2 linked regions of the Homo sapiens genome follow. The protein of the gene in region 1 purifies or fractionates together with the protein of each later gene. This does not show direct contact. Each region holds a gene or a part of one and is shown in the gene's direction. Other genes may lie near its edges.

Region 1 (14,998 bases):
TGGGAGTCGGGCCAGAGCTGGACTTTTATAGTTGTCTCTTTCATTCCTGCTGGTTAAGGAGAAGAAAGAACTAAGTACAGGTCCTACTAAGTTGTCACTCCTGGAGCTACATACAGTAAGGGGATGTGGGAAACAGCCTAGAGGCTTGTTTTCTGAGGAGGGAGGTGATGGTTTGTGGGGACCATGAGTTAATCTGCCTCCCTGTCAGCATTTTCGCACTATGCAGGTAGCTTCAATGGCTAAGAGTATGTACCTTGCAATTCCAAGTTCAATGAAAAAGGCTGAAATGCTCTTTAAGAATGCATCTCCTGGTCAACAGATTGTTTTAACCAGAGTCCCAACATTGCCAAGAAGAGAATAGGCCAGTCTGAGAACCACCAATCTGTGTTTGTGCATTCATTCATTTGGAAAAGGCAATATAGTATAGTACTTAGAAACAAGCACTCTAGGCTGGGCTTGGTGACTCACACCTGTAATCCCAGCACTTTGGGAGGCTGAGGTGGGCGGATCACCTGAGGTCAGGAGTTCGAGACCATCCTGGCCAGCGTGGTGAAACCCTGTCTCTACTAAAAATACAAAAATTAGCTGGGCGTGGTGGCGCATGGGTGAGGGGGTGAGGGATGAGAATCGCTTGAACCTGGGAGATGGGGGTTGCAGTGGAGGTGGAGGTTGCAGTGAGCCGAGATCACACCATTGCACTCCAGCCTGGGCAACAAGAGCAAAACTCTGTCTCAAAAAAAAAAAAAAGAGAAAGAGAAAGAAAGAAACAAGGACTCTAATTACACAAAGCAAGACTTGAATCCCAGCTCCCCTTTGTACATACATAATCTTCTCTTTGTTTTAAGTGTGTATGTGCATGCGTGTGGGTGTGTTTTTTTTTTCTTGTTTATTTTGTCCCAGAGTCACAAGCTTTCATAATTTTAACTTTTTGTATTGGATTAGCCATTTCTCAAGGCCATAAAATGCCAGTTGTGGACAGATTGACCTACAGAAACTAGTTATTTCTTCTTCTGGGCTGAATCTTGTGATTTCCTAAGTCACAAGTGCCTTAGAGAGCTCAAACCAAAGCCAGGTGCCTGGCTAAGCAGGTATTCATCCAGTTCTTGTGCTGCAGAGAACAGCTGTAAGCTTTGCCCTTGTAATAGAATCACTTTTGTCTTTGAGCAAAAGCAGAAAACTTTTGTCATCTTTCCTCCAACTTTCCTTAAATGGACACTGTTTCCTTAAAAGGACAACAGTGGAAAGAACTAAAGCAAACCTCAGCCAGAAGACACAGGGAGTTGCAGGAACCTACTGGCTGAGACAGTAGAATGAAGAATTGATGAGCTCTCCTTCTCTGTCTGCAGGAAAATGCTGTCCAGTGGGGTGTGTACATCAACTGTTCAGCTTCCTGGGAAAGTAGTTGTGGTCACAGGAGCTAATACAGGTATCGGGAAGGAGACAGCCAAAGAGCTGGCTCAGAGAGGCAAGTTCACCTCCTTTCAATTCCCTCCTATTACTGCTGTTTTACCCCTCACAGTAATGATGATTCATTCTCATTGTTTCTTCCCAGTTTTGGAATTCAAGAACACCTAAGGATTCCACTGATTTGCTGATCTGAAACTAGTACTATGCTCTACATATAATGGACCCTTAATGAATATTATTAATTTATTTTTCTTTACCTATTTGCTAATCAGATACCTCTGTTGTGAAGAAAGGGTAAAAATGTGTGTTTTTTAAAAAAATGTTGGAAATAACATTAGATTTATAATGCCAGCTCAAAAACAGAGCTGACCATTTCTCTTTCATATGTTGGCTGACAGGAGCTCGAGTATATTTAGCTTGCCGGGATGTGGAAAAGGGGGAATTGGTGGCCAAAGAGATCCAGACCACGACAGGGAACCAGCAGGTGTTGGTGCGGAAACTGGACCTGTCTGATACTAAGTCTATTCGAGCTTTTGCTAAGGGCTTCTTAGCTGGTAAGTGTAGAACTAGAGAGACTATGTTGTGGGTCTTGAGGTCAACATGGCAGATTCAACTAAAAGGAAAAGGTCCCTCTTCCTCATAGAAGTGGTGGATAAAATATAGCCAAAAACTTCTGTAGCTGAACTCATAGTCACTGGGACACAATTTATGTCAAAGGGATATCTTCCAGAGGCAGAAACAAAAAATGAATTCAAAACGTCATAGCAGTGAGTAAGAGCTGAAGCCAGAAATCTCATGGGAGTCTCAGCACTCAGTACAGGCTTTTTAGGGTCTGGGGTCTAAATACTTACACAGGGATAGGAGATGAGGCCACAGGCCTTTGAGAGCTGGAGCTGTATTTGAGGTTCTACACAAAGTTGAGATTCACAAAGGGCCATCTGGTCCATAGTATAGAAGCTAATAAAAATCCTGGCCACCAGCTCAGAGACATGACAAAGAAGTTTACCATCTCTTTAGACATAGATGGATACTTACCTGCAAAAAATTAGAACCCGAGCTGGCATCATGTGTGGGGTCTGAATTCGTACCACCAAATGATATGAGGATATTTATGGGTTTGATTTTTGTATGTGTGTGTAATACTCTATGGAAAATTAACGTAAAAACCTGTAGTGTCTCATCAAAAGCAAATCCAAGAGCACTCTATAGGCATATCCCCTTATAGCCCAGGGATCTAGGCCTCCAAGGAAAAAGCTTTCACTGGTGTGAACTCATAGTCATAAATTACAAACCACATGAGGAAATGAACCATGAGAGAGAATTGGAAGATGCAATAAAGAGGTGAAGCCAGTATTTATTTCTTTGGGGACCTGAATCCCAGGGCAGAGGTACATAGAGAACATTCTTTTTTCTCTTGCTTTGGAATCTTTCCATTCAGCTTGGGAAGTCTTTTTATTGAGAGAGGTGGATGCAACAATTCCCAAAAGCAGTGAGTAAGTAGCTCCTGAACTACAAGGATCTGGAAGGTCATTTGGTAGTATAAAATGGAATTCTGCCCCATAGTAAAAGTAGGTGGGATTCAACTAAAGTCTTAAAATGAAAAACAATAGAAAATAAATATGAAGGAAAAATGGAGGGAAGATTGAAGTCCTGCATCCTCATTTTCAAAGCCTGAGCGTGAGGCAGCTTTCTAAGATGTAATAGCCTTGGCTAGCCACTTCCACGCTCCATCGTCTTGTCCCTGCAGAGGAAAAGCACCTCCACGTTTTGATCAACAATGCAGGAGTGATGATGTGTCCGTACTCGAAGACAGCAGATGGCTTTGAGATGCACATAGGAGTCAACCACTTGGGTAAGAAATCTGGCCTTATCACAAAGCTAGAGAGACCCAAAATTCTCTTTGGGAAACTTAGGGGTCAGATTGAGGCTTCTTGTTGTGTGATTGAACCTCAGGACCATAATAGACCATGTGTGCATAATAGTTTGGTCCTACCTGATAGCTGAGGAATACCTGAGGGCTGCTCCAGGTTCTGCCCGCTTTTTAATCTGTGATTTAGATTTGGTTTGCCTTGGCGCATTTTTTAACAGACTAATTGGTTTAGGGGACTGTGTTGCTTTCTTAGTAGTGATCCTTGTGGCCAGCATCAGGTATAGGTCATCTGCTCTTTTTTTGTAAAGACAGGGTCTTGCTATGTTGCCCAGGCTGTACTTAAACTCCTGGCCTCAGGCACCTTCCTGCCTCAGCCTCTTTAAGTGCTGAGATTACCGGCGTGAGCCACCGCACCCAGCCAACCAGCTCTTAAGAATGAGATTAACCAAAGTAGGAATGAGCTGGGACTTCATATTCACATAGTCTAGACCTATCTCGCTCATATAAGGATGCCTCATGTCTTTGGCTGTTGTTATTTCCCTAAACCTTCATTAAACTTGTTTTCTAGTTGATAATGAAAAGTTGGAGGGAAAGACCTTATTTCTGAATTATCTGCCTCCCATAGGTGAGGCCTGCTCACCACGACTCCTGTCATTCCTACATGGCCCTGAACTTCATTAATTCTAGTATTTCTCAACAGGTCACTTCCTCCTAACCCATCTGCTGCTAGAGAAACTAAAGGAATCAGCCCCATCAAGGATAGTAAATGTGTCTTCCCTCGCACATCACCTGGGAAGGATCCACTTCCATAACCTGCAGGGCGAGAAATTCTACAATGCAGGCCTGGCCTACTGTCACAGCAAGCTAGCCAACATCCTCTTCACCCAGGAACTGGCCCGGAGACTAAAAGGTGGGCCTAGAGGAAATGAATGTGGAGACATGAGTCAGAGAGAGGCAGGTAAAAGCCACAGGAATGGAAACTGTTTCCAGAGCCCATCACCTGGAGAGGACCTGCTTCCGTGGCTATAATTGGGTACAGTTTTAGTAAGTAGTCTACAACTGAATATTGGAGGTGGCTGGCTGGGACAGTGAGACTCTGACTTTGAGTCTGAAGGCCTGGCTTTACTACTTACTAGCTGTGTGATCTATAGCAAGTTACTTAACTTTTTTTTTTTTTGAGACGGGATCTTGCTCTGTCACCCATGCTGGAGTGCAATGGTGCAATCTCGGCTCACTGCCGACCTCCACTTCCCAGGTTCAAGTGATTCTCCTGCCTCAGCCTCCTGAGTAGCTGGGACTACAGGTGCGTGCCACCAGGCCTGGCTAATTTTTGTATTTTTAGTAGAGACAGGATTTCACCATGTTGGTCAGGGTGGTCTTGAACTCGTGACCTCAGGTGATCCACCCACCTTGGCCTCCCAGAGTGCTGGGATTTTAGGTGTGAGCCACCGCACCTGGCCATTACTTAACTTTTAGGACTTCCTTCTTCATATGTAAATGGGACTACTTCACAGTTTATTGTCATAATTAATTCAGGCTTCATAAGCAAGTCAAGATTTTTTACTCACAGTGAGACTGAGTATGAGGGAAGGACCTGAACTGGCACTAGATAAAGGCAGTAGACTAAAACAGGTACTGGGAATATGGAGGGGCAGGGTCTCCCTTGCAAAGCATCAAATAAGAGGGAAATATATGCTTGAGAAGGGGAATTTCCAGTCACAAATACACAGAGGTCCTTAGCACTGTCTACTCTGGATTTCTAATAAAGAGAAGGGAAATCGAGGGTGAACTGTGCTAGGAATTGAGGCAGGCAGAATGCAGGCTCAAGGAATCAGGCACAGGTGCCCTATAGTTGGAATAGGATCATCCTACCAAATGAACATCTGTGAGATGGGAAGGAAACTGGTGGTTAGCTCAGTCCTTATGCCCAGTCTGTGCCCAGGGCATGACATCTTTTATCAGTTTAGGATAGATAAGGGTAACTGGATGGTGAAAACTATCCAAAGAGTTGATCAGGGAGCTAGGGTGGCCTGGAGGTGGAAAGATGGGTCCAGTGGTGAGAATTCACTAATACATGAATGAGGTGACTCTGATAGTTGTGAGGATTCAGTGGAAAATCATTATGGTGCAGTAAAAGAACCCTGGTTTGACAGAAGATTCATTCATTCAGCCATTCAGCAGACACGTATTCAGTGCCCATGTTGTTCCGTGCACTGGGTTAGGGGACAGGGGATGAATTGGTGAACAAGATAGGTATAGTCTCTTCTTTGGTTTGGTTTACATCTAACGGGGGAGAAAGACAATTAGCAAGTCTTTATACAAACTATTAAATGTAAAATCAGTCTAGTAATGCATGAATAATTCTCATTGTAAAAAGCTCAAATAAGGTCAGGCACAGTGGCTCACACCTTTAATCCCAGGCACTTTAGGAGGCCAAAACCGGAGGATCACTTGAGGCCAGTTCAAGATCAGCCTGGGCAAAATAGTGAGACCTCATCTCCTCTACCAAAAAAAAAAAAAAAAGAGTTCAAAGCATATGGAAGTATGTAGAATTAAGGTGAAAAACCACCTTCATTTATTCCCCTCTTCCCCCTGCTCTTCTCCCTTCATATGACCATTATCAACAGCTTGTGTGCCCCTTTCCAATAATTTTCCTATGCATTTACATATGTATGTATCATGCACAAGGAACTGAAACTCCAACACAGTATCTTGGAGATCTTTCCATTTAGTACATATGGATTTACCCCTTAATTGTATTGGCTGTGTTGTATTTCGTAGTATAGATGTGCCTTAGTGTATTTATGTATTTCCTTAACAACATCTGGATTGTTTCCTTTTTGTTGTGGCTGTTTAATTATAATTGTGATAAATGTTATAAAGGAGAAGTACCAGGACTTACAATGGATTTTAGTGGGAGTCTTGGGGGGACCTTATTCAGTCTGAGGGTTCAGGGAAGACTTTCCTGAAGAAGTGAGTTGCATGCTGAGCCCCGAAGGATGATTAGAAATTAAATGGATTAGAGGTACTGATAGAATGTGGAGGCTGAGGCCGGGCGCGGTGGCTCACACCTGTAATCCCAGCACTTTGGGAGGCCGAGGCTGGTGGATCACCTGAGGTCAGGAGTTCGAGAACATCCTGGCCAACTTGGTGAAAGCCCTGTCTCTACTAAAAATACAAAAATTAGCCAGGTGTGGTGGCGGGCGCCTGTAATCCTAGCTACTGGAGAGGCTGAGGCAGGAGAATCGCCTGAACCTGGGACAGAGTTTGCAGTGAGCCAAGATCATGCCATTGCACTCCAGCCTGGGCGTCACGAGTAAAACTCTGTCTGAAAAAATGAAAAAAAAAAAGGGCCGGACGTGGTGGCTCATGCTTGTAATCCCAGCAATTTGGGAGGCTGAGGTGGGTAGATCACCTGAGGTCAGGAGTTCAAGACCAGCCTGACCAACATGGAGAAACCCCATCTCTACTAAAAATACAAAATTAGCCGGGCATGTTGGCGTGTGCCTGTAGTCCCAGCTGCTCAGGAGGCTGAGGCAGGAGAATTGCTTGAACCTGGGAGGCAGAGGTTGTGGTGAGCTGAGATCATACCATTGCACCCCAGCCTGGGCAAACAAGAGTGAAACTCCATCTCAAAAAAAAAAAAAAAAAAAAGGAATATGGAGGCTGAGAAACATTCCAGGCAGAAGGAGGAGAATGTACAAAGGTCCGGGCTCAGTTTGAGAAACAGCGAAGGTTACCATTGGTAGGTTGTAGAAAGCAAGAGTAATAAAGATCTGAGCTGAGACTGGTGAGGTAGGTAGATGCCAAACCCTTAGAGGCCACAGTAAGGATTTTAGTGTTTATTCTAAGAGCAATGGGAAACGGTTAAAATTAAAGCCTTTTCAAAATGGGGGCAAGAGGGGTTGCAGCAGTTGATTTCATCAGCAGAGGTGAGAAATGAGGGTAGTTTGGACTAGGTGGTGGAATTGGAGGGTAGTAGAAACTTCTGAGAGAGATTTGGTTTGGGAAAGCTTGTTGACTGGAGATGCATGCTTTAGGTGGGCATTCATCAGAACCCTTTTGCCTGATTGGGCATGTCGGGAACACTGCAAGAACCAGGTTTGGCTTTAAAAGTAGAAATCAATTTGGGACCTCTGAGTCTGCATTACTATGGGTCATCTAGGGAGATGTCGAGTAGGCAGTTGGGAATAATACAGCTGTGTCTGCAGCTGTCAGTCCACAAAGACCAGAAAAATTCTGTTTCTTCAAAGCTTTACACCAAAACTCATTTGGCAGCAAAACATTTCCTGTACTAGGGAGATTAGATTAATAGGCAGTGTATGTATACATTTCATATTACCTTTCTACAATCAGAGAAAAAAATTGAAGTATGTCTGGCCCCAGCGTTTTCCATAAAGGATTGGGGGCCTGAAATAGCATGTGCAAAAGTATCATTTAGCACTTACCATGCATCAGGCACTTTTTTTTTTTTTTTTTTTTTGCACCGGTGTCTCACTCTGTCGCCCAGGCTGGAGTGCAGTGGCACGATATCGGCTCACTACAACCTCTGTCTCCCTGGTTCAAGTCATTCTCCTGCCTCAGCCTCCCAAGTAGCTGGGATTACAGGTGCACGCCACCATGCCCGGCCAATTTTTTCTATTTTAGTAGAGACGGGGTTTCACTGTGTTGCCCAGGCTGGTCTATAACTCCTGAGCTCAGGCAGTCCACCTGCCTTGGCCTCCCAAAATGCTAGGCTTATAGGTGTGAGCCACCACGCCCAGCTGCATCAGGCACTCTTTTAAGACCTTTAACATATATGAACTCATTTAATCCTCATAACTACCCTGTGAGGTTGTAAGTATTATGATTATTCCCATTTTAGAGATGAAGAAATGAGTCACAAAAGGGAACTTGCCCAAGGTTACACAGCTAATGAGTGGAGCCAGGATTTGAAACTGGGCAGTCTGTCTACAAAATCCATGCCCATAACCACCACATTGTGTTGACTCCCAGTGTGTCTGCAGTTCAGAGGAGCAGTTTGGACTGTGGACAAAATGTGAGCACCATAGAATTATGGAGAGGGAGTCTGGTGAGCCACGAGAACTCCAACATTTAATGTTTGTGTAGAAGATGATGAACTGGTCCAGAAAACTGAGACAGAGCAGCCAGAAAGGTTAGGAAAACCAGAAGTGGCATAGGCTTATGGAAGCCAGTGAAAAAGAAGACTTTAAGAAGGGGATGGGCGCCTGTAATCCCAGCACTTTGGGAGGCCGAGGTGGGCAGATCACTTGAAGTCAGGAGTTCAAGACCAGTCTGGCCAACATGATGAAATCCCGTCTCCACTAAAAATACAAAAATTAGCCTGGTGTGGTGGCGCACCCCTGTAGTCCCAGCTACTTGGGAGGCTGAGGCAGGAGAATCGCTTGAACCTGGAAGGCAGTGGCAGAAGGAAGATCATGCCACTGCACTCCAGCCTGGGCAACACAGCAAGCCTGTCTCAAAAAAATGAAGGGGATGGGGTGGGTGTGGTGGCTCATGCCTGTAATCCTAATACTTTGGGAGGCCAAGGTGGGAAGATTGTTTGATGCCAGGAGTTCAAGACCAGCCTGGTCAACATAGGGAGACCCCATCTCTAAAAAAGAAGGGGGTGGTCAACGATGTTAAGTGCTGCTGAGAGGATGAGTCTTGGCTCTGCTGATTCCTGACTTGAGTTTCCAGTCAGAAATACACAGAGGTCCTTAGCACTGTCTACTCTAGAGCCTTCTTAGATCTGTGAGATGGAAGTATAAATTACTGTGAGCAGTACTTCTGATGTCACCATGGGCAAAAGAGTCCATATGTGAAGGTCACATGCTTATTTACATCCTTTTCTGTTTTGGGCTATTCTGCAAAATCAAGTCCTGTCTTACCCTCTCTTCATGCCACCCCCAACCAGGCTCTGGCGTTACGACGTATTCTGTACACCCTGGCACAGTCCAATCTGAACTGGTTCGGCACTCATCTTTCATGAGATGGATGTGGTGGCTTTTCTCCTTTTTCATCAAGACTCCTCAGCAGGGAGCCCAGACCAGCCTGCACTGTGCCTTAACAGAAGGTCTTGAGATTCTAAGTGGGAATCATTTCAGGTATGAATGTTATCTCTTTTTGCAGATGAGATTTATTGCTCAAAGGAGATAATTTGGGTTTGTCTGGGTATACCCTTTTTTAAAAGTACATTGTCTCATATAGCTTTTGTCTTTTAACTCTAGAGTTTTTACCTTTTAGTAGGGGAATTTGACTCTCTTTTGTAATAACTGCTACATTTGATTTTATGCCATCTTTTATACTGATAATTATGCATTCTGTTTGTTTTCTTCCTGTCTTTGTTATGTCAGTCCAGTTTTCTTTATTCTTTTTTGGATTCCTAATTCTATTGTTTTACATTAAAAAGAATTTAAAAAGAATTTGAGGCCAGGCGCAGTGGCTTACGCCTGTAATCTCAGCACTTTGGGAGGCCAAGGTGGGCAGATCACCTAAGGTCAGGTGAAACTCCGCCTCAAAAAAAAAAAAAAAGAATTTGAATCTGCATTTCTCTATTGTCCTCAGGATTGAAATACTATGGACTCCCCTCTCAAATAAGCGAAGACATTTAAAATGATTTAAATGTAGAGAATTTTGAATATAACACAGGGTTAGATAAAATAGTGCACTGAGCCTGCATATAATGGAGCCTCAGCTACCATTAACCCATGGCCAATTCTGCCCTATCCCCATTCTCTACCCCTTTCCATATTTTTCTTCTCCCATATTATTTTGAAGCAAATCCCAGGCATCACATAAGATCAAAATTTTAACATGTTTTTACCTCTACTTCAGGTTATTGTTGAAATGACCTGAAATTTTAAGGAAGTAGCTGAAAATAGCATTAAGATTGGAAAGAAAGGCAGACAGATTATGAGAGGCCTATAATGCCAGCCTTGTGGAGGAGCCCCAGAGTTGTTTCAGTAGACAGACAAAATCTGGTCTGTGCTTTAGCAACTTTGTTTCATGAATGAATAATTAACCTAGTGAGAGAGAGAGTTTCAGAAAGTTGTAATGAAAGGAATGGTAATGTGAAAGAGGCCCTGAAGCAGCAGAATTTTTATCACTGGATGATTAATTAAATGAGGGGATGAGGGAGGCTTTGCTAACCTGAATTTCAAGCCTGAATGAGGTTGATGATGACATTAACTAAGACAGCAGACATGGAAAAGTAATGTGTGGAACTTAGGGTTCTTGGATTCCAAAGCAGTTGAAAGGGACTTTGTCTAGCTTAAGCAAGAAGGAAATTTATTAAAATATTAGTAGGGAGAGGAGGGACCCCTAGGTTGAAAGGGAAGACTGAAGAGCCAGGCTAAGAAGTGTCAGAGTGGCAGTCAGCCAGCCGGGGCATTGCTGCTAGAGTGAGCGAATGCCAGCTATCTTTAGTGTTTAGGTTGTATTGCTTATCATCCATTCTCTAGGGAGGAAGCATTGGATCTCCTTCCTCCTATCCCTTCATTTTTACTCTTTTGATTAGAGGCAAACAGGGACTTTATTAATGCTCTCTTCAAACTATATTGAGGGGAAAAGGTGATTCTGCAGAAGGAAATCAGGTTGCTATTGCCGAAACAAAGTAGAATGTTCAGCCAAAGAGTAACAGTTGTCCACTGTGTAACAAACCTGGCTCTGTACATGTTGCATGTGTGTTATCTATAAGGCATGCAAGTAGAAATGTATAGCAGATAGTTGGAAATGTGGTTCTGAAGTATAAGAAGATAGATTTATATAGTATACTGGATTGATTTTCCAAGAGTGACTGGATTCTTCTTCCCTAGAGATTTTAAGAAAAAAAAAAATAACCCTTTATCTTGGTTTTGACTGAGTGGTTTAAAGAAAGTCAGCTCTAAATCCATAACTTACTATTGGATTGACTTTTGAAGAGCCTTTCCTGTGCTATGGATTCTTAATTCATTTTGAAGATCCAACAGCAGCCGTGTAGACCACCATCAAGAAATGAACATAAAAGTCTTTTGATTGAAGCCTTAAGATTTTTGCACTGGCTCTTCTTTCTGCCTGCAACCACTAGTCTGCTTTATGTCTCTAAGAATTTGCCTTTACTGGACATTTCATATAAATGGAATCATATGGTATGTGGCCTTTTGTGACTGACTTCTTTTACTCAGCTTAATGTTATCAAGGGTCATCCATGCTAAAGCATGTGTCAGTACTTCATTTCTTTTTATTGCTGGATAACATTTCATTGTATAGATTTGCCACATCTTATTTATTCATTCATCAGGTGATGGGCATTTGGGTTTGCACTTTTTAGCTATTTGAATAATACTGCTGTGACCATTTGTGTAGAAATTTTTGTGTGGACATTTCTCTTGGGTACATGGAAGTGGAATTTCTGGGTTATATGGTAACTGTGTTTAACTGCTGAGGAACTGCCAAACTTTTCCAAAATGACTGCCCCATTTTACATTCCCACCAGCAGTCTATGAGTATTCTAATTTCTTCACATCCTCAGCAACACTTGTTATTGTCTCTCCTTTTGAGTTTAGCCATCCTAGTGAGTATGAAGGAATATCTTGTTTTTATTTTCATTTCATTTTCCTACTAATGATGTTGAACATTCTTTCATGCGCTTTTTGGTTCATTTGTTTCTTTGTTGGGGAAATGTCTATCAAGTCCTTTGCCCATTTTTAAGTTGGATAATTGTCTTTTTATTGTTGAGTTACAAGAGTTCTTAATAGTCTAGATGCGAGTTCCTTGTCAGATATATAATTTGCAAATATTCTCTCATTCTGTGGGTTGTCTTTTAACTTTCTTAATGGTATCTTTTGAAATGTAAAACTTAAATTTTGATGAAGTCCAGTTTATCTATTTTTTGTCACTTGTGCAGTCATATCTAAGAAATCATTGCCTTACCCAAGGTCACAAAGATTTACTACTGTCTTTAGTAAAGACAGTTTTCTGTTACTAAACAGAATACCACAGACTGGGTAATTTCTAAAGAAATTTACTTAGCTCATGGTTCCGGAGGCTGAGAAGTCTAAGAACATGGTGCCTGGCATTTGGTTAGGGCCTTCTTGCTGTGTCATAATATGGCAGAGGGCATCACATGGTGAGAGGGCAAGCAAGAACAAACCCACTCCCATGATAGTGACATTAATCCAGGTATGAGGGCAAAGCTTTTATTAATTAATCTGTTCATGAAGGCAGAGGGACTAAGTTTCCAACATGTGATTTTTTAAGGGATACATTCAAACTATAGCAACCCCTATGTTTTCTTCTAATAGTCTTATAGTTGTAGCATTACATAGGTCTGTGATCTGTTTTGAACTATTTTTATTTTATTTTATAATTATTATTTTTTTGAGACGGAATCTTGCTCTGTGACCCAGGCTGCTCACTGCAACCTCCGCCTCCTGGGTTCAAGCAATTCTCCTGTCTCAGCCTCCCGAGTAGCTGGGACTACAGGTGCACACCACCATGCCTGGCTAATTTTTGTATTTTTAGTAGAGATGGGGTTTTGCCACGTAGGTCAGGCTGGTCTCCAACTCCTGACTTCAAGTGATCCCCCTCCTCGGCCTCCCAAAGTGCTGGGATTATAGGCATGAGCCACCACACCCGGCCTTGAACTAATTTTTGTATATGATATGAGGTAGGGGTCAACCTTCATTCTTTTGCATGTGGATATCCAGTGCCTTAGCACCATTTGTTGAAAAGACAGTTTTCTACCCATTGAATTGTCTTGGTATCTGTATTAGTCTGTTAAGGCTGCCATAGCAGAATCCCACAGACTGGGTGGCTTAAACAATATAAATTTATTTTCTCACACTTCTGGAGACTGAAAGTCCAAGATCAAGGTGCTGGCCTGGTTGGTCTCTGGTGAGGCCTGCCTTCCTGACTTCCAAATGGATGCCTTCTCTCTGAGCCCTCGCATGGCCTTTCCTCTATGTACACACACTCCTGGTGTCTCTTCCTCTTTTTATAAGGCCCTGTTGGATTAGGGCCCCGCCCTGATGACCTCATTTAACCTTAGTTACCTCCTTAAAGGCCCTCTCTCTAAATACAGTCACACTGGGGGTTAGGGATTCAACATATTAATTTTGGGGGAACACAATTGGAGTATAACAGTAAGCTTGTCAAAAATCAATTGACCATAAATATAAGGGTTTATGTTTCACTTTTCTGTTCCGTTCATTTGTATGTCTGTCCTTATGCCAGTATCACACTATCTTGATTACTATAGCATTGTAGTAAGTTTTGAAATTAGTTTATCTTTTACCTATACTAATTCTTAGCAAAATCCCCCTGGAAATGTCAATACTGTGACCATGCTGATGCCATAGGCACACTTAACTAGCTCTTACTTGGCTGGGCGCGGCGGCTCACGCCTGTAATCCCTGCACTTTGGGAGGCTGAGGTGGGCAAACTACTTGAGCCCAGGAGTTCAAGACCAGCCTAGGCAACATAATGAGACCCCATCTCTATAAAAAATGCAAAAATTAGCCAGGCGTGGTGGCGTGTCCCTGTGGTCCTGGCTACTTGGGAGGCTGAGATAGGAGGATCACCTGAGCCTGGGGAGGTTGTAGTGAGCTGCGATCACACCACTGCACTCCAGCCTGGGCAACAGTGAGACCCTGTCTAAAAAAAACAACCAGAAAGCTCTTGCTGTAGTATTTGATTAGTTTTTATAGCCTACAAGGAACCTTCATGTCAACTGTGTTCTTTGCTCTTAACTGTAACCTTATGAAGAGTATAAGGCACAGTGCAGTGGAGGATGCAGAGGCTTACAAAGGCTGAGTCATTTCCAGAGAGATACAGAGCCTTGTGGTTCTCACTGATGATCTTTTCACTAGGAAATGGCAAGTTGTACTGGTCATACTGGTGAGTCTTCTTAAACAGAAGTACTGATAAGACTTGTTTTGTAAACGTGACGATATTTTGAAATGGTATTTCTCAAACTTTAGTGTGTTCAAGAGTCATCTGGAAAACTAGTTGAAAATAGATTCCTGGACCACAACCCTAGAGATTCTCATTCAGTATGTCTGGAGTAGGGCTGGAGAATTTCTAACAAGCTCCCAGTTGATGCTCCTGCTGCTGGTTTGTGGTGCACACTTTGAATCCCACTGTCTTACTTGACATAGTGTTAAGAGTTTGCATATATAGTTAATTCAGACTTGTCAACTCTTTCACCTTCAGAATTTGCTTAGATACTGAGGAAGCAATTTTCTTGAAATAGTATACTTTTAAAAATTGTTTCCTCACATGACTAAAGATTGTAATACATTCAATCATTTTTTTTAAAACTTTGACTGAATGCTTACCAGATGTATACCAGATCCAGAGAATACAAAAATGAGTCAGAATTGTCCTTAAGAAAATTTTCTGCATCGGAATTATAAAATTATAAAACTTGGAATTACAGGCTGGGTGCAGTGGCTCATGCCTGTAATCCCAGCACTTTGGGAGGCCGAGGCAGGTGGATCACTTGAGGTCAGGAGTTCGAGACCAGCCTGGCCAACATGGCAAAACCCTGTCTCTACTAAAAATACAAAAATTAGCCAGTCATGGTGGCAGGCGCCTATAATCCCAGCTACTCTGGAGGCTGAGGCAGGAGAATTGCTCAAACCTGGGAGGCGGAGGTTGCAGTGAGCTGAGATCGCATCACTGCACTCCAGCCTGGGCGACAGAGTGAGACTCCGCCTCCAAAAAAAAAAAAAAAACTTG
Region 2 (13,096 bases), on another chromosome or scaffold:
CCCAGGAGGTTGTGAGAGAAGATGCTGATTGGATGATCCTCACAGCTGCAGCCCCATGAGACACTCAGCCTTCTGTGTTCCCCAGGTGATGGTACACGAGGTCCCAGGGCAGGAGATTGAAGTGGAGGTGTTCGACAAGGATCCAGATAAAGATGACTTTCTGGGCAGGTGAGACTCTGCCTGTTAGGATTCTAAAGCCCATGCTGGCCAGGCACGGTGGCTCATGCCTGTAATCCCAGCACTTTGGGAGGCTGAGGCGGGCGGATCACGAGGTCAGGAGATTGAGACCATCCTGGCTAACACGGTGAAACCCCATCTCTACTAAAAATACAAAAATTAGCCGGGTGTGGTGGCGGGCGCCTGTACTCCCAGCTACTCGGGAGGCTGAGGCAGGAGAATGGTGGGTGAACCCGGGAGGAGGAGTTTGCAGTGAGCCGAGATCGCGCCACTGCACTCCAGCCTGGGCGACAGAGCGAGACTCTGTCTCTAAAGAAAAAAAATAAAAATAAAAAAAATAAAGCCCATGCTACCGAGGTTCTGGAGGTAATTATACTCACTTTCTGGGCCTGGGAATCATGTATCATTTTCCTTCCTAACCTCCCCACCCCCAGCCCCTACCATGCACATACTCACGCATGCAGGTGAATATCTTCTGAGAGGAATAAGGGAGTCTGAGATCTGCCAGTCATTTCTGGGTGGGTGAGTGGAGGGCCACTGACATGCTGCTAATTACAACACTACCCTTTTCTTCCTTTCACTACCCTCTCCCCCGCCAACCCTCAGAATGAAGCTGGATGTAGGGAAGGTGTTACAGGCTAGCGTTCTGGATGATGTAAGTTGGGAGAAGAGGAAGGTGGGGGCTGATCTCACCCTTTGGGTAGATAGTAGTTGCTACATTGGTAGGGAAGTAGTTGAGCAGGTATCTGATCTCTACTACATCTCAATTTCTTCTAGTGGTTCCCTCTACAAGGTGGGCAAGGCCAAGTTCACTTGAGGCTAGAATGGCTGTCACTTTTGTCAGATGCAGAGAAACTGGAGCAGGTAAGCCACATGGGAAATAGGAAGCTGGCAGGGGAGAAATAGGTAGCTGGAAGTGTAGGGGACTTGGAACGGGGACCAAGATCTGACTACTACCACCCCTCCCCAGGTTCTACAGTGGAATTGGGGAGTCTCCTCTCGACCAGATCCCCCGTCAGCTGCCATCTTAGTTGTCTACCTGGATCGGGCCCAGGATCTTCCTGTGAGTTTGGCTGGGTGAACAGGAGCCCTGGATGTAACATTCCCCAACCCTGCCTTGCTGAGGATGCAAATGTCCCTGCCTGCTTTGCTCCAGAAGTATCAGCATGTAACATAAGGGTCCCAGGGAGGGGATCAGATCCATCTCAGGGAAAGGATTCTGATGCGATCCCACCTTCCTTCACCAAAACCAAAACCGAATCCCCCAAGATGGTGACCTCTGAATTGTACCCACCACAGCTGAAGAAGGGGAACAAGGAACCCAACCCTATGGTACAACTGTCAATTCAGGATGTGACTCAGGAGAGCAAGGTGAGGGCCAGGACATCATTGTGGGTGGCCAGGTAGGACAGGGAGAGGCCTATTCTTGGGATGGTTTCCCCTTTAGAATGCCTGTTACATGCAGGGGTTTTCTGCAGAAACAGGAATGGTGCTGTGGTATACACCCTTAATCCCTCCTCTACATCTCCAGGCTGTCTACAGTACCAACTGCCCAGTGTGGGAGGAAGCGTTCCGGTTCTTCCTACAAGACCCTCAAAGCCAGGAGCTCGATGTGCAAGTGAGATAATCACCTCTTCATCCCCTCCCGAATACCCTATTCTGACTTCCCAGATCTGTACCATTTCTCCTCTCCTTCTTTTCCCTTGATTCCTATTTTTAATCCATCTACCTAGACTCCCCACCTCCCTGAATATCTCTCCATTGTTCCCCAACTGTCGCTCCAGAATAATATTTTTTTTTTTTTTTGAGATGGAGTCTCGCTCTGTTGCCCAGGCTGGGGTGCAGTGGTGCGATCTCGGCTTACCGAAACCTCCACCACCTGGGTTCAAGCAATTCTCCTGCCTCAGCCTCCCGAGTAGCTGGGATTACAGGCAGGCACCACCATGCCCGGCTAATTTTTGTATTTTTAGTAGAGACAGGGTTTCACCATGCTGGCCAGGCTGGTCTCGAACTCCTGACCTCAGATGATCCGCCTGCCTCAGCCTCCCAAAGTGCTGGGATTATAGGCATGAGCCACTGCACCTGGCCTTAGTTCATAGGTACTTGTTCTTGAATGATTTTATATATGTGTGTCTTGTCTATGAAACTGGCCAGTAAGCATTGTGAAAGCAGATGCTATGTTTCGTGCTTTCTCCATGACCTTTAAAATGCTGAATGTTAACAATTTTATTGAGGCATAATTTACATACCATAGAATCACTCATTTTAGGTATACAAAAATTATTCTGAGGCTGGGCACGGTACCTAAAATGAGTGATTTTATGGTATGTAAATTATGCCTCAATAAAATTGCTAACATTCAGCATTTTTTTTTTTTGAGACAGTTTCGCTTTTGTTGCCCAGGCTGGAGTGCAATGGCGTGGTCTCGGCTCACCGCAACCTCCACCTCCTGGGTTCAAGTGATTCTCCTGCCTCAGCCTCCTGAGTAGCTGGGATTACAGGGATGTGCCACCATGCCTGGCTAATTTTTTTTGTATTTTTAGTAGAGACGGGGTTTCTCCATGTTGGTCAGGCTGGTCTCGAACTCCCAACCTCAGGTGATCCGCCCGTCTCAGCCTCCCAAAGTGCTTGGATTACAGGCGTGAGCCACCGTGCCCGGCCCAACATTCAGCATTTTAAAGGTCATAGAAAAAGCACAAAACATAGTATCTGCCTTCACAATACTCACTGGCCAGTTTCAGTTTCATAGACAAGACATACACATATAAAATCATTCAAGAACAAGTACATATGAACTAAGGCCAGGCATGGTGGCTCACACCTGTAATCCTAGCACTTTGGGAGGCCAAGGCAGGTGGATCACCTGAGGTCAGGAGTTTGAGAATAGCCTGGTCAGCATGGTGAAACCCTATCTCTACTAAAAATACAAAAATTAGCCAGGCATGGTGGTGCGTGCCTGTAATCCCAGCTACTTGGGAGGCTGAGGTAGAATTGCTTGAGTCCGGGAGGCGGAGGTTGCAGTGAGCCAAGATAGCGTCACTGCACTCCAGCCTGGGTGACAGAGTGAGACTCCGTCTCAAAAAAAAAAAAAAAATCAAAAATTTGCCAGGTGTGGTGGCATGTGTCAGTAATCCCAGCTACTTGGGAGGCTGAGGCAGAAGAATCATTTGAACCCGGGAGGTAGAAGTTGTAGTGAGCTGATTTCAAGCACTGCACTCTAGCCTGGGTGACAGAGCAAGACTCTGTCTCCAAAAAAAAAAAAAAAAAAAAAAGGAACAGAAGAATAGCAACAATTACATATGAATTTGTGGGAGTAAAATATCCATAGTATAGGACTAAGGAGGGTCAGAGAAAGGGATAGGCTGGAGTAACTAGGGAGATTTTGTGAAGCAAAAAATTGGATTTTAATTGAGTCTTGAAGGATGAGTAGGATTTAAATAGGCCGAGGGAAGAGAATGAGGACTTTCCAAATAGTGGGAGCAGAATGAACAAAGGTGGAAGGGGCCATGGATTGGGCAGAGGACTATAAAAGATGGCTCTGGCCGAGGTGGGCGGATTGCCTGAGCTCAGGAGTTTGAGACCAGCCTGGGGAACACCATGAAACCCTGTCTCTACTAAAAAATACAAAAATTTAGCTGGGCGTGACGGCATGCGCCTGTAGTCCCAGCTATTTGGGAGGCTGAGGTAGGAGAATGGGTTGAACCCAGGAGGTCGAAGTTGCAGTGAGCCAAGATGGCGCCATTGCACTCCAGCATGGGCGACAGAGTGAGACTCTGTCTCAAAAAAAAAAAAAAAAAAAAGATGGCCCTGAGTGGAGCAGGAGGTTTGTGATTGGTACAGAGAGGAATGAAGTTGGAGCCATGTTATCATTTTCACAGTATGCCTCCCTTTCCCCTAATCCCTTCACTACAGTCCTTCCTCCTGTGCCTGTAGGTGAAGGATGATTCCAGGGCCCTGACTTTAGGAGCACTGACGCTGCCTCTGGCCCGCCTGCTGACTGCCCCAGAACTCATCCTGGACCAGTGGTTCCAGCTCAGCAGCTCTGGTCCAAACTCCAGACTCTATATGAAACTAGTCATGAGGGTATGGAAATAGAGGAGGTACTGAGGTGTGGGGGAAAGGCCTGTTGATTCTTTGGTATTAAGAGTAAGGAAAGGGACCCCCCTAAGATTAAAAGAGCTAATACATGTAGAAGTGCCAAGCAGGCACAAAAACATATATTGATCTGACTGGTGGAAGGAATGGCTTATGAGTTGAGGGGGTGTGGAGGGAACCCTGTAGAGATGAGCCCAGCCAGGGCAGCACCTAGTTCCCCTGTCACAGCCCCTCCTCTACCCCACCCCACATGCTTTGCCTGCTGGTGACGAGCTGCACTTCTTTGATTCAGCATCATACTACCCTTCCTAGATCCTGTACTTGGATTCATCAGAAATATGCTTCCCCACGGTGCCTGGTTGTCCTGGTGCTTGGGACGTGGACAGTGAGAATCCCCAGAGAGGCAGCAGTGTGGATGCCCCACCTCGACCCTGTCACACGACTCCTGATAGCCAGTTTGGGACTGAGGTGAGTCTATATCTGGAAAGGACTAGGGTCTGTTTGCCCCGCTAAGTATGCAAAGCCTGTTTCAGGGCAGATTCTGACAGGTCTCTCTCCCTTTGCCATCTGGCACCCCCCCGTCCCTTTTGCAGCATGTGCTTCGGATCCATGTATTAGAGGCCCAGGACCTGATTGCCAAAGACCGTTTCTTGGGGGGACTGGTGAAGGGCAAGTCAGACCCCTATGTCAAACTAAAGTTGGCAGGACGAAGCTTCCGGAGCCATGTTGTTCGGGAAGATCTCAATCCCCGCTGGAATGAGGTTTTTGAGGTCAGAATTGAGTGGCTGTGACTCCTGGTTCTGCCCCATTTTTCCCCCAATCCCAAAAGTGGTCCAGAAACCTCTGAGGTTCAGTTGACTGGGGGGTCCAGTCATTTGCAGAGGAAAAGGAGAGAATCTTTCATCTGCACTATTTTCTCCCACTAGGTGATCGTCACATCAGTTCCAGGCCAAGAGCTAGAGGTTGAAGTCTTTGACAAGGACTTGGACAAGGATGATTTTCTGGGCAGGTGAGAGCATAGGAGTCTACGTGAAAAACAGGCTGGGGCTCTTTAGGCCATGGAGTCTGGCCTCCTTGGTTCTCACCATCTAGCTTTTGTCTTAATCTTTCTCTTCAACAGGTGTAAAGTGCGTCTCACCACAGTCTTAAACAGTGGCTTCCTTGATGAGGTGAGCATTGAATTAGAGTCAACAACCCCTCCTGATCCTGCCCAAGCTTCATTCTCAAAGTTCTCCTGTCTGCATATCCCCAAGTCTTCACCCTGCCTACTTCCACAGTGGCTGACCCTGGAGGATGTCCCATCTGGCCGCCTGCACTTGCGCCTGGAGCGTCTCACCCCCCGTCCCACTGCTGCTGAGTTAGAGGAGGTAGGGCAGGAGACTTGAGGAAGGAAGGGACCCAAGGTGGGGCAGGATGAGCTCTTCTCTTAGCGTTCAAGGCACATGCCAGAACCCAAGGTGTCAGTTACCACTCCCCAGCCCCGTGTGCCCCTCCACAGGTGCTGCAGGTGAATAGTTTGATCCAGACTCAGAAGAGTGCGGAGCTGGCTGCGGCCCTGCTATCCATCTATATGGAGCGGGCAGAGGACCTCCCGGTGAGATCCCGCTCCCCATGCCCCATAACTTCCTGGCCCTTCTTCCACCTTCCTCCGGTTTGGATGGTCCTGGAGTATTTAGAATAAGAAAAATGGCCCCTCTCTTTCTGAGGGTAGTGCAGGGGTGGGAAAAGTTGTCTGTTCAAGGCCACGGGTAGTGGCTGCCAAGTAATAATGGAGACATGGCTGCTGGCTGTGGATATAATTTGTGAGGGGGATCTGCCTAACTAGGTCCAAATTTAAGACTAACACAGTATTGTCTTTCTAGCTGCGAAAAGGCACCAAGCACCTCAGCCCTTATGCTACTCTCACTGTGGGAGATAGTTCTCATAAAACCAAGGTATGAAGAAATGCTGCAGGGTAAAAATGGGAGGGATAAGAGAAATAAGAGTATCAGCTACTGATCATAAGCCCTCATCTCCACCAGACTATTTCGCAAACTTCAGCCCCTGTCTGGGATGAGAGTGCCTCCTTTCTCATCAGGAAACCACACACTGAGAGCCTAGAGTTGCAGGTACTGTAAATTCATTCTTCAAATATTTAGCAGATTTCTGCCATGGCCAGGCAGGAAACCAGGCACAGAGCATTCAGAGATGAGATAAAAGGTTGACTTTTTTTTTTTTTTTTGAGACAGAGTCTTGCTCTGTCGCCCAGGCTGGAGTGCAGTGGTGCTATCTTGGCTCACTGCAAGCTCCGCCTCCTGGGTTCACACCATTCTCCTGCCTCAGCCTCCCAAGTAGCTGGGACTACAGGTGCCCGCCACCACACCTGGCTAATTTTTGCATTTTTTTTAGTAGAGATGGAGTTTCACCATGTTAGCCAGGCTGGTCTCGAACTCCTGACCTCAGGTGATCCGCCCACCTCGGCCTCCCAAAGTGCTGGAAATACAGGTGTGAGCCACCGCACCCGGCCAAAAGATTGACTTCTTATCTTTATGGAGCTCACACTCTGTTTTGGGAGAAAAATAACCAGATGAAACTTTCAGAATGATAACTGAGGTAAAAGGCACTGTGGGGAAGAAAGGAAGGGTTCAGGCTGGGGAAAGGCTGGAGATAGAAAGGCATCCTTAGATGACCCCTGAGCTTGAGGGTAGATTTTTTTTTTTTTTTTTTGAGACTAGAGTCTCACTCTTATTGCCCAGGCTAGAGTGCAGTGGCGCAATCTCAGCTCACTGCAACCTCAGCCTTCCAGGTTCAAGCGATTCTCCTGCCTCAGCCTCCCGCGTACCTGGGATTACATGCGCGTGCCACCATACCCCACCAATTTTTAGTAGAGACGGGGTTTTGCCATGTTGGCCAGGCTGGTCTTGAACTCCTGACCTCAGGTTATCCATCCACCTCAGCCTCCCAAAGTGCTGGGATTATAGGTGTGAGCCACTGCACCCGGCCTTTTTTTTTTTAGACAGGGTCTTACTCTGTCGCCCAGGCTGGAGTGCCGTGGTGCAATCAGGGCTCACTACAGCCTCAACTCTTGGGCTCTAGCAATCCTCCTACCTCAGCTGGGATAACAGGTGCACACTACCACACCTAGCTAATTTTTGTATTTTTTTGTGGAGATGAGGTTTTACCATGTCATCCAGGCTGGTCTCGAACTCCTGGACTCAAGCATTCTGCCCGCCTCGGCATCCCAAAGTGCTGGGATTACAAGCGTGAGAACCGCGCCCCAGCCTAAGGGTAGATTTACTGGTTCTTTCGGACCACGAAAAGAAGAGCAGGAAAACTCTTTAGGCTGAGAAAAAAAATGGAGGAGAGAGAAGGCATATTTATTATAGATCAGAGAGGCAGGCAGAGCAAGATCATAGGAGCTGTTGAATAGTATGCTAGAAATATGGATTTTATCCTAAGGCTTAGGGAAGCCTTTGTTTATTTTATTTATTATTTTTTTGAAACAGAGTCTTGCTCTGTTGCCCAGGCTGGAGTACAGTGATACGATCTCAGCTCACTGCAACCTCCCTCCTGGGTTCAATCGATTCTCCTGCCTCAGCCTCCCGAGTAGATGGGATTATAGGTGCCCGCCACCACGCCCAGCTAATTTTTGTATTTTTAAGAGAGACGGGGTTTCACCATGTTGGTCAGGCTGGTCTCTAAGTCCTGACCTCAAGTGATCCACTGCCTCGGCCTCCCAAAGTGCTGGAATTACAGGCGTCAGCCACCACACCCAGTCAGGGAAGCCTTTAATGAGAGGTCACATATCCAGATTTGCATTTTGGGAAGATCATAGGGATAAGAGGGTAAAGAATGGACTGGAGAGGGACAACACTGGGGGCAGGGAGATCAGTGAGGAGACTGTTAGAGCAGTCAAAGCAGGAAACGACTAAAGCCTGATGGGATTTGAAGATTGCTGTGATATGGAGCAGGTGGAGGAGCAAGGAACAGCCTAGACACTAACTCTGGGGTTTTTGGCACAGGGTGGCTAGATGGATAAGGGTGCCGTTGCTGACTTAGGGAGTGCACAGAGAGGGAATTTTGGAATTTGAGATCTCTGCAGGACATCCAAGAGAAGACATGCAGAAAACAAATCTATTGTCCATGAGGTGTTCCTCCCTTGCCCTCTTATTGGAACATCATGAGCAAGCAACCACTCATAAGTGTAGTCATGGGTGAGATCTCTTAGGCAGCGTGGAGAGTGAGGAGACAAAAGATGGCCATGAGCCATCTTACAGGTGTGAACCACTGTGCCCGGCTGAAATTAATAGAATTTAAAATAATGTAACTTAATGCTAGCAGAGTAGAAAGGAGGTACAAATGAGCTCAGTTCTTCATCTTTTATAGCAGGGAATCAATAGATACAAGCATATTAGAATTCCGTGAGAACAAAGAAAACAGGAGGGTTTTAAAGGTTGTTACATTTGGAATATGGCAATAGGAGTAGGATGGGCAAGAAACATTTACTTTTAGTTCTGTTTTTACTGTTGTTTTCTGTATGCTGTAGGTATTACTGGTATAATTTCTGAAAGCTAGGTTGGGCGCGGTGGCTCACGCCTGTAATCCCAGCACTTTGGGAGGCCAAGGCGGGCAGATCACAAGGTCAGGAGATCGAGACCATCCTGGCTAACACGGTGAAACCCTGTCTCTATTAAAAATACAAAAAATTAGCCGGGTGTGGTGGCGGACACCTGTAGTCCCAGCTACTTGGGAGGCTGAGGCAGGAGAATGGCGTGAACCCAGGAGGCGGAGCTTGCAGTGAGCTGAGATTGCGCCACTGCACTCCAGCCTGGGCAACAGAGCGAGACTCCGTCTCAAAAATAATAATAATAATTTCTGAAAGTTTATGAGGTAAAGATGGTCCACTCTACTCTGGTTAAGAAAGGAAGGACAGGCCAGACACAGTGGCTCACACCTGTAATCCTAGCAATTTGGGAGGCTGAGGTGGGTGGATCACCTGAGGTTGGGAGTTTGAGACCAGCCTGACCAACATGGAGAAACCCCAGCTCTACTAAAAATACAAAATTGGCTGGGCGTGGTGGCAGGTGCCTGTAATCCCAGCTACTCAGGAGGTTGAGGCAGGAGAATCGCTTGAACCTGGGAGGCGGAGGTTGCGGTGAGACCAGATCACGCCATGCACTCCAGCCTGGGCAACAAGAGCGAAACTCTGTCTCAAAAAAAAAAAAAAGGAAGGAAGGACAGAGGGAGGGACTAGCAACTGTTACCATGGCTTCCCTGCCTTTCTCAAAGGGAAATCTCACCAAACCACCTATGAGTCCAAGCGTTTGGACCTTTAAAACACCAGGATTAACTCATTTGTTGATGCATTCGCCTCTTGATCATGGTCCTGTTGCCCCACAGGTTCGGGGTGAGGGCACTGGCGTGCTGGGCTCATTATCCCTGCCCCTCTCAGAGCTCCTCGTGGCTGACCAGCTCTGCTTGGACCGCTGGTTTACACTCAGCAGTGGTCAGGGGCAGGTGCTACTGAGAGCACAGCTAGGGGTGAGTGACAGGAGATGGTGGGCAGGATGAGAGGGAGGAGGGGAGGGCCTTCACAGGTGAGGGACACCCAGGAGGGTGGGAACAGAGGGCCGTGTCCTTAGAGTGAGGGAACTGAGAGAACTCTGCCCAGCTCACAGCTTTCTTGCCCCTAGATCCTGGTGTCCCAGCACTCGGGAGTGGAAGCTCATAGCCACAGCTACAGCCACAGCTCCTCATCGCTGAGTGAAGAACCAGAGCTCTCGGGGGGACCCCCTCACATCACCTCCTCAGCCCCAGAGCTCCGGCAGCGCCTAACACATGTTGACAGGTAAAGGGCTGGGACAGGAAGGTGGGACGCAGTCAGAAATAAAAAGTATTACAGGTTCACTAGGCTCTAGCTTTCCCCAGACCTACTGATATTTCTCCACAGTCCCCTTGAGGCTCCAGCCGGGCCTCTGGGCCAGGTGAAACTGACTCTGTGGTACTACAGTGAAGAACGAAAGCTGGTCAGCATTGTTCATGGTTGCCGGTGAGACCCCATCCCTCCTGTCCTCCAGATCGCCTCCATCCCTTCCCTCAGGTTACCATATCACCTACATCCTCCTGTTGTAGGTCCCTTCGACAGAATGGACGTGATCCTCCTGATCCCTATGTGTCACTGTTGCTACTGCCAGACAAGAACCGAGGCACCAAGAGGAGGACCTCACAGAAGAAGAGGACCCTGAGTCCTGAATTTAATGAACGGTCAGTCAGTGGGCATTCAGGTGGAGAGATGGCAGGCTTGGAAAGGACTCCTGGCCCCTAACATCCAGTCCTACCCCAGGTTTGAGTGGGAACTCCCCCTGGATGAGGCCCAGAGACGAAAGCTGGATGTCTCTGTCAAGTCTAATTCCTCCTTCATGTCAAGAGAGCGTGAGCTGCTGGGGAAGGTAAGAGGGCAGGATGGCAGGGCAGAGGTGAGGGCTGGAAGCTGCTGGCACCAAGGTTATAGTCCCTGTGAGGAAGGAAGTACCCCACGTGATCCTTTAGAGGTGACTCACCTCTGCAATGGTTTGGGACGAGTATGTGATGAAGGAACATGGTCTTTGGAGATTTCAAAACAGCATCATCAGAATGAGATCCTGTCTCAAAAAATAAAAGAAATAACATCTTTCCCCTATCATCTTCCAACACAGGTGCAGCTGGACCTAGCTGAGACAGACCTTTCCCAGGGTGTAGCCCGGTGGTGAGTGTCTGCGTGGGTGGGGGATGGTCTGGATATTTCAGTGGGAGAAATTCCAATCACAGGAAAGGAAAAAAAGATACAATCTGAGCAGAGAACCATTGATTCTATCAAGTAGAGAAGCCCTTGGATCGTGTCTCATTTATAAATATGATGACACAAGAGTCATCTTTCTACATGAGCCCTCTTTTCACAGGTATGACCTGATGGACAACAAGGACAAGGGCAGCTCCTAGGAGCTGGCGAGTCCCAGCCTGACTGCTCTGTCTTCCTGCCTTCGTCTCGCTCCATCACCGCCTCAATGTGATGAGCCTAAAGCTAGGGTCCAAGGGCAGAGCCTGTGCCCTTCAGCCCTTTCACCTAACAGGCCCATATTCGGGCCTTTGCCTGACCAAAGAGAAGAACCGTATGTTCCCTTTACTGCACGGCCTTTATCCTTCTGGGCCCCTGGGGCGGGGACCTGAGCTGGCTGTTTCCTGCTTTGCCTGCACATTGTTCTCCCTTCCTCCCAACTCCTCAGGGCCTTCTGTATCTGTGCCTGGCCAGTGGCAGCACTAGCAGTGGTATTAGCTTATGCCAAATACAGCTTTGGAAGGATCTTTTTTTCTTTAACTAGATGGTCACCTTCTTCCCTACCACACATGGGTGGGAAGGTGGACAGGCTAACCTCTCCAGCTGTGAGCCTCTTAGACTACTGCATGTAGCAAATGTTCAGCAGCTCAGGCCCCCATGTCCAGTTCTGTCCCCACTGTCCTCAACCCTGTCCTGAAAATTCTACTGCTTTGATGGCTGGGGCCAGTCTCTTGTCACTTTGGAAACTGAGGACGCGTGGATTCTACTCAAGCCTCCAAGTAGTGGCATATCAGTCTTGGAGCTCCTAGCTGGTGATACGGAGAGGGCTTTGGAGGACTTGGGACAGCAGGGCCAATTTTTTTGCCCAAGTGCCTAGGCTGCTAACTCACTGACTAGAACTTAATCTGGTACTTTACAGTTTTGCACCAACTCTGCCAAGCCACTGGATCTTACATTAAACATCATACTCAAACCAGCTGTGGTTCTTTTCCTTAAGGATAGGGAATCAATCTACCCATCTGATGTTTATTCCTACTGTCAAAAGCCTTTATCCAATTCGTGAATCATGTCAGTTTAATTAATGGTCAAAGCCTACTAAGGTTGCAGCCACCAAGAATGTTGAGGATGGTCAAGAGACCTGTGTAAAGTAGCTGCTGTTGCATTTCAGGTGAGACTCATTTCCAGTCACAGTGATGAACTCTGTTACCCATCCAACTTGTCTGCTGACCACTATAGGCTTTCCAGGGAAGGGATTCCTAAACCTGGTAAACCTGGGAGCTCTGTGCCACTGCACAGGCTCCTGGTGTCTCTGTGCCACTGCACAGGCTCCTGGTGTCTCTGTGCTGTCAGGGCATGCTCAGCTACATTCAAAAGGGCTTCAGGCCCATCTAGCAGGAGCTGAGAAATACACCCATTTCGATCATCTGTACACCTTGAACTCTGCTCCTTGCAAGAACTTTCCTGGAATGCAAGCTAGAGAAGCTGTGCTCCATCTGTTCTGCCAATTGAAAGGAGAGAGATGGACAGAGTGAACTACTGAAAACAGGGTCACTGGCATAGGAACTTGGGGATTTCATAACTGACTCAGAGAGACTTTACTATCGTCTCTTGAAAAATATAAACCTTCCTTAGGATGCTGCCCACTGGGAGAAGAGGGAAGACTCAGGGGAAAGGATTCCTGCTCAGTTCCACAAGTTGTCGAAATTTGCTTAATTAGCAAAAACTGAATTTAAACTCCACACTGTCCACAAACTCAGCCTCTATGTTCTCAGTGACCCTTTTGTATTCACTGCTGGTTCCTCTACCATCTCCACTTCCTTCCCATCAAAGTAAGAGGACCCCAAGCCTTGGCTTTGAGCAAGGAGGTCTTATTTATTTGCTCCATTCCCCAACTCCGGCTCTAAAATCACAGGGGGAAAAACTCCAAAAACAGAGCAAAGAAAATTTTTAAGGTCTCTTGTCAAATTTCTAGATACTGGCCACGCGCAGTGGCTCACACCTGTAATCCCAGCACTTTGGAAGGCCAAGGCG

Evidence for each region.
Region 2: the proteins of RDH11 (region 1) and ESYT1 purify together in Homo sapiens (affinity purification with mass spectrometry; 2 studies listed by BioGRID and IntAct, with this or other methods). This does not show direct contact.

What each region holds. Positions count from the first base shown.
Region 1 is NC_000014.9:67,679,401-67,694,398, reverse strand, and holds part of RDH11 (retinol dehydrogenase 11), read left to right. Parts: intron 1-1,346; coding exon 1,347-1,465; intron 1,466-1,805; coding exon 1,806-1,961; intron 1,962-3,154; coding exon 3,155-3,259; intron 3,260-3,977; coding exon 3,978-4,187; intron 4,188-9,194; coding exon 9,195-9,384; intron 9,385-14,998. UniProt on the Homo sapiens protein: Retinol dehydrogenase with a clear preference for NADP. Displays high activity towards 9-cis, 11-cis and all-trans-retinol, and to a lesser extent on 13-cis-retinol.
Region 2 is NC_000012.12:56,132,634-56,145,729, forward strand, and holds the end of ESYT1 (extended synaptotagmin-1), read left to right. Parts: intron 1-85; coding exon 86-168; intron 169-783; coding exon 784-832; intron 833-954; coding exon 955-1,041; intron 1,042-1,147; coding exon 1,148-1,240; intron 1,241-1,446; coding exon of another isoform or gene 1,447-1,476; coding exon 1,477-1,548; intron 1,549-1,708; coding exon 1,709-1,795; intron 1,796-4,110; coding exon 4,111-4,260; intron 4,261-4,584; coding exon 4,585-4,740; intron 4,741-4,865; coding exon 4,866-5,042; intron 5,043-5,198; coding exon 5,199-5,281; intron 5,282-5,392; coding exon 5,393-5,441; intron 5,442-5,549; coding exon 5,550-5,639; intron 5,640-5,770; coding exon 5,771-5,866; intron 5,867-6,134; coding exon 6,135-6,206; intron 6,207-6,293; coding exon 6,294-6,380; intron 6,381-9,651; coding exon 9,652-9,792; intron 9,793-9,944; coding exon 9,945-10,099; intron 10,100-10,201; coding exon 10,202-10,300; intron 10,301-10,383; coding exon 10,384-10,515; exon of another isoform or gene 10,516-10,594; and 8 more. UniProt on the Homo sapiens protein: Binds calcium (via the C2 domains) and translocates to sites of contact between the endoplasmic reticulum and the cell membrane in response to increased cytosolic calcium levels.